2 linked regions of the Homo sapiens genome follow. The protein of the gene in region 1 interacts with the protein of each later gene in a pairwise test. Each region holds a gene or a part of one and is shown on either strand. Other genes may lie near its edges.

Region 1 (3,827 bases):
ATGTATTCCAAATATGACACTGGGTTCATGCAAAAGAAAATGTGACTTTAAATCTGATCACTCAAACAGTAACTGTGCTACTATAATGATTTTATTTAAAGTAGTTGGAAATAAAGTGAAAAGTAATCAAAGATGAACAAGAACATGCTATTCGGAGAAAAGCTTTCCCCTCAAAAATCTGATAAGCTCACCTTTTAAGTTGTGAATGCAAATAAGTAGTTAATTTAGTAGTTTCTTCAAGTTTCTGTAGCAGCTCTTTTCTTCTCTCTTCCAATCTCAATCTAGGAAGAAAAAAAATTATTTTCAAATGATTATAACAAAATATGAAAACTAAAAGGAAAGAAAGATTCTCATTGTACAAACATTACAGATCACAAGGGAAAAATGTGAATGGGCTCCACAGACAGAAAACAGGACACCGGCAAGAAGTGTGGGGGGCAGAGCTGCACGAGCCAAGCTGAAGGATGGGGAGGGAGCGTTATGCCCCATCACCATGTCACTGAGAATTTAAAATTGCTGGTAGCCTAGAATCTTTTTAAATGGGTAAGTAATATGGTCCTTTGAGTTGGGGAAGAAGAGTGAGGAGGAAAATAACCAAGGAAACAAAAAACTAACCAAAGACTAGAATCCTGACACAGATCTGTGACCTGGGAACCCTTTCCTAAAACATTTCACAGCAACAGTAAAGGTCACCCTAAATACCGAATTTAGTAACGCTTGTTCCAACATAGTATTTAGTGATAACATTCCCAACCCTGATTTGATAAGAATTAGCAATTAAGAAACAATTTTAGTCCACAATACCATTGTGGGCTAATTTGGGCTCAACTGTTTAGGGAAGAGGATGACCTAAAAGTGATTCCCCTTCCGAGCTACAGCACATCTCATCATCCGCGTCGGACTATCATAAAATTTCATCCACATTCAACTGCAAAAGTTTTTCTTTTTTTTAAGAGTACAGCATTATAGAACTGTATACTTGAATAGTAAGTCATTTTAAAATATACCAAGTACCCAGGGGTTTATGCAACTAAGAGTCTGTGCAAGTATAGTCTATGTCGTGTGAAGGTCTTTAGACATCATGAAATAAAGTAGTTCAGAGCAGTAAGCAGCAGAATGGAATTCAGAAAAAGGGCACCTGGGTTTCTAATCTTGATTTGCAGCTTACTAGCTGCATATCCTTGGTAAGTCGCTGAATCAAGGGTCTTACTTTTCTCATCTGTAAAATGGTGACTATAATTCCCCTGTGTCTCCCTGGTAAGGCTGTTAAAGGGATCAATGGAGTAATGTATGAGAAAGTGCTTGACAGAGAAGAAAAACAAATCTGACTTGTTCAAAGCCTCAGCATGCCCTGAAAAGTGGTGATATAAAAACTAGCCACTTTTCTTTGGAGAAAAATAAAATTTCCTTAATTTCTAATCTCTTTGAAATGTTATATATGTTTTTGGCAGTAAGGAAACATGCCCATATTTTATTTATAGGTATCTATCCCTTTGATGTGTCAACAACACTATTCCATTATATGTTAAACTAAAAAAAGTAATTCTTGCCATTTTCTTTAATACTTCAAAAGCGCGATAAATTCTTAATTCATGGCTTTCAAAGGTGTATTTTTAAAAGCAGCGGTCATTTTAAAAATCTTTCAAATATAAATAAAAACTCAACGAGGAAAAAAGTAATATGAAGTAGACTAACTGAATTAAAAGTGCACAAAGGTCTGAAGAAAGCCCCAAACTCTACTAAAATCCATGTCTTCTGAAACAAGAGAAACACTTCGGAAGGAAGTTTTAAAACTCAATATTGCTTTTATTAAAATGAAGCCTTTTTCTAATGCTTTCAGGAGGCACCAGGATGACGTCAGAATGTGACCCTGAGCCACACTTTCAGTGCTGTCCCTTCTCCATCACTAGGGAGCGTCCTCAGCCTTCTCCAGGTGATGCTCGGCAGCTGCTCTTCCAGCCCTTTAATGTCTGCTTTGAACCACAGATGCCTGTCTTTGTGTTCTTGTTCACGTTTCCCACTTAGCTCCTACAATCCCAGAATGCAGACATCAGCCCTTTCTCCCTGCAGCACAGGGTGCCCTGGCCAGTCCCTCCGTTCTTGCTGGTGTTGAGATGAAACCTTCCCTGGGAGAAGCATGAGGAAGGCACTGGGGAGAGGCACAGAAACCCTCCTAGTGGGCCGCAGTTTGTCTCTGATGTTATCACCAAAGCCTCTCCTAGCGAAAGCCTGAAGTCTTCCTCAGAATCCACGTGTATTTCATGTGAAATGCTCTCCCCAACTTCCCCATAACCAGGGGTTAGAAGAAATTGCAGACATCAGCCCTCTCAAAAGGGTGCACACCTGTCTCTCTAGGTTCTTCTCCAACTCCTGCCTGTTGGTCTGCTGGATGAGAAAGGGTTTCCTCTACTTGGCCCTTAAAAGATTCCTCCCCCTGGCCCATCTGCTCCACATCCCCTTTCAAGCTGCCCTTTGTGAAGTGTGGGCCTTCACACCTGCCTGACTCTGCCCTCAGTGCCCTGCAGGAGAGAAGCACAGCCTGGTTTCTCCTGAACTCAGAATTCTGCACCTAGGGAAAATTTCATGTCATCTATAGAAGCAGGAAGTCCCTTTTCCACTCAAAACTAAGTGACACTCATGCCCCCACCTATTTGCTTTAAAAAATTTTTCAGAAGCAGTGGCAAAAACATTCAAATAATTAAGAAACAATTAAGACGTCTTGGCAATTACAAGGCAAACCCCCAACACTTGTGATAAAACAAGGAGCAATGTTAAGATCTTACCAGCTATAGGAAAGCACAGAGTTTAAGGAATTTCAATAACTGCATGGGAAGAATACGAAAGATGCATAGAAACACCTTCCCTGCATGGTTTTTTTCATTTGCGAGCAATTTCTCTTTAGGCCTGGCAATGCTTCACCATGAGCACCTCTTTCCCACCACCAGGTGGCGAGCACAGTCGCTGCCATCAGGCCCAGTGGGCGACACTGCAGCCCTGTGGGGGCAGGAACAGAGCCGGGGGGGGGGGGGGGGGGGCTGTAGGATCACACTCAGAGACTGAAAATTCATGTGCATCTAGCTCCTTCAGACACCAACGTTCAGCAATGACTCGGAATCTTGCCAGAGGTCACCCCTGAAATAATGGGAACCCCAAATATAAGTGGAAAACAGGAATATGTTGGGGAATACGGCAGGTAGCTTTGACAGTCATGTAGGTACCAAGAAGAAAAGGAAGGATTTGGGGTTGGTGGCACACAATCTGTTCTATGATGAAACTGAGTTTCACACAGCAAATCCTACTTCCCAAAAGAAGCTCCAGCCAGCCCTGCTTTGACACTGAGGAGACACTGCTGGCAAGGGCGTTCTCTTCCCTCTTAAACTCCCGGCGTCAGTGCAACAGCAGCAATGAGCAGAGCAGAAACCCACACACACAGGAGGAAGACACGAAAGGGTGAAGCCATAAGAAAAAATGCCAGAGCATGGGGGAATAGAAAGCAAAACCATAATAGCAACAGCAAAACCCAAAGCCAGACGAGGTTGTATCTACTTGGGAAAGAAAGGATTCAGTGTTCCCAATGGCAGCAGGTTCTGCTCTTCTGGACATGTGAACTACTGAGTCACTTTGAGCATCCCAGGATAGGAGTTAGAAAGCTTTAAGCTGATCAAGCAAGAATGTCTGAGTCCTTCAACCTTTGATGGCAATGTAAGTATGAGGATTTGCCTTTGGCCATAGACACTGATAAGGAAACTAGTATCCACTTATTTGGAATACTAAATGACCTGGCTCTTCCAGGTAACTCAGAAAGTCAACATACTACATATATAAAA
Region 2 (2,957 bases), on another chromosome or scaffold:
TAGCCGGGTGTGGTGGTACACACCTGTAGTCCCAGCTACTCGGGAAGCTGAGGTAGGAGAATTGCTTGAACCCAGGAGGCGGAGGTTGCAGTGAGCCGAGGTGGCACCACTGCACTCCAGCCTGGGCAACAGAGCAAGACTTCATCTCACAAATAATAATAATAACAATAATCAGACTGAAGTAAATTATGGTCAGACTAGTTCTTTAATTGAGCAGAGCCTCCTCATGTACGGGTAGGTATTCTTCCCATGTTTCCCCCTTTATTAAGTTGAATTCAATGCCATTTTAACACCCTGTTTTCAAACCCCGTAGCAGTACATTTTTTAAACTTGATAGTTTATAGTAAAACTGGTATTTTAATTATGGTGTTCTAGACCAGGAATCAGCAGATTAAGTCTTAATGGGCCAAATTCAGCCTATGGCCTGTTTTTGTATAGCCCATGAGCTAAGAATGACTTTTTCTTTTTTGTAGAAGAGAGAAGAAAAAATAGAAGAGAAAAGAAAACAAAAAACTAGAATATGAGACAGAAACTCTTTGGCCCACAAAGCCTGAAATTATTTACTATCTGGTTTTTTACAGAAAAGGTTTGCCAGTACCTACTTTAGACTCTTTTACTTAAATTCAGGTGATTCTACAGAAGAAGAATTTTTTTAATAATTTCTTTTTTTTTTTTTAACCTTTCCTATAGTGCTGAAGCTTATATACTACTGCAACTGAGCAAGTGAGGTTGAGCTGTGCTAGTAAGGAAAAAGATGCTCTTTTTGCTTCTCATGTTTAGAAATAGATCAGGAAGGAATAGAGAGGATTTAAGATAAGAAATGAAGGTTATGGGTTTTTTTGCCTTCTTTATCTTCTCAGATCTGTTGGGAAAGATAAGAAAGCTATTCAGGCATCAATTAGACGTAATAAGGAAACCAACACCGTTTTGGCCAGATTGAATAGCGAATTGCAGCAACAATTAAAGGTAATATAGTTTCTGAATCTTTATAATGTTCCTTATCTTAGTAAAGAAACCTAAAGAGAAGGAATGTGACCTCAGATACCTCCAAGATCACATATATGGTTCTCTTCTCTAATTTTCTAGATGCTTTGACTGTGGTTAGTTAACCCCTCCCCGCCACACACACACACACACACACACACACTTTTTTTTTTTTTTTTAAAGAGACACGATCTCGCTCTATCACCCTGGCAACCTGGGCTCAAGCTATCCTCCCACTTCAGCCTCCTGAGTAGCTGGGATTACAGGCGTGAGCCACTGCACCCAGGTCCTAGTTTGTCCTTTTATCAAAGACAACTCAGATTCCATTAAAGGGACTTAAACAGGTCTAAAGAAGAAGAGAAGTGGCAGCAATTTCAGTCATCTTGCATGTGGAAAGAGAAAAGGCAAGCCTTAAATAGAAATGCTGCTTATGCAGTGTGTATACTGTCACCTAATACCTGAGAGGAATGTGTTTGTTTTCTAGTAACTATAATTTCTTTGCATCCCTAGAAATAAAAATTACTCTTACTTACTCCTTCTTTATTGAGTCAAAAAAAAAAATTACTCCCAGAATTGCTTATGGTTCCCCAACATTATTAGGTACTCATGTCTTACAAACCAGTGGTTCTCAAACCTTAAGGCATATACAGGTAATCTTGGGTCATGTTAAAATGAAGATTCTGGTTTTTGTAGAGCTAAGGTGGGACCTGGGAATTCTGCATTTCTCCTAAGCTTCCAGGCAGTGGAGATGCTGGAGCACTGTTGGCCCCACTTGGAATAGAACAAAGATGAGATGAGAGTCCATGGAAATGAAAAATGAATGCAGTTAGTTCATTCTCCTAACATTCTGTTCATGCTCCTCATTTAGCATTTATTACACTGTCCTGGAATTATTATCTGTGACACATTTGTCTCTCTGTCCTACTACAGTGAACTCATTGAGGGTAAATCATAATCATTTCTGTTTAGGAAGACCACGTAATATACCATCCAAATCGAGACACTTTTGAGAGGAAAAAAAGAGGGTGGTATTACTATCATTTAGGCCAAGACACTGGGTATAAACTGGGATTGTCCTAGATAAACTTATGACCGTCTTGTCCCTCTCCTCGAAACCTAGTATGTTAGGCATTTTTTAATGTCTGTTGAATGAATGATATAAACTTATGGCCACTTTGTGTCTATCCCCAAAACCTAGATCATATTTTAGGCATTTGATAAACATCTACTGAATGAATGATATTGTTGTATAACTCTATGATCAGAGGAGAAGACATTTGTAGTTATATGATTATTAATTTAGTCCATCGTACAGGAAGAATGAACTTAAAGACAAGCTTAGTAGTATAATACCATGAAGATGAAAATTTTGTTAATGCATGTTTTTCTGAACCAGGGAAGACCATTGAAACAAGTATATAGAAGCTATTTTGAAAAATTACTTTTTTCCTTACTTCTGAGAACAGAAAATGGGAAGTAAGGTACAAAATAGAGGTAGTTCTGGTTAAAACACAATACTGTCAATTTGAAAGAGAAAAATAGGAAAGTAAGTAAGTTAGAATATGGTGGCTAACTGAAAAGACTGCCTAAAATCAACATTGATTAAAAATTCTGAATGCAAAGTTATTCTTTGGGAAACTAAAGCTCAAAATGAGATCTAGGAGTTGATATAGCCAGATGTCATCACTAGGGAAAAGAAGCTACATTAACAAATTCATCTACCAGGGGGCGGGTTTATTGCAAAATTCAGGTGTTAATACCCATTGTTGCAAACAGTGACTTTTCTAAAAACTAGACATTCTATTTCCCTGATTTGTGTAATAAGAAAATGTTTGAAATTACTAGGATCTTATTTTAATATTAAACATATAAAGAGACTACATTTCAGCCGGGCGCGGTGGCTCACGCCTGTAATCCCAGCACTTTGGGAGGCCGAGGCGGGTGGATCATGAGGTCAGGAGATCGAGACCATC

Evidence for each region.
Region 2: the proteins of WWC2 (region 1) and REPS1 interact in a two-hybrid assay, tested with the Homo sapiens proteins (one large-scale study listed by BioGRID and IntAct).

Annotation. Positions count from the first base shown.
Region 1 is NC_000004.12:183,256,093-183,259,919, reverse strand, and holds part of WWC2 (protein WWC2), read right to left. Parts: intron 282-3,827; coding exon 192-281; intron 1-191. UniProt on the Homo sapiens protein: Regulator of the Hippo signaling pathway, also known as the Salvador-Warts-Hippo (SWH) pathway.
Region 2 is NC_000006.12:138,905,504-138,908,460, reverse strand, and holds part of REPS1 (ralBP1-associated Eps domain-containing protein 1), read left to right. Parts: intron 1-860; coding exon 861-966; intron 967-2,957. UniProt on the Homo sapiens protein: May coordinate the cellular actions of activated EGF receptors and Ral-GTPases.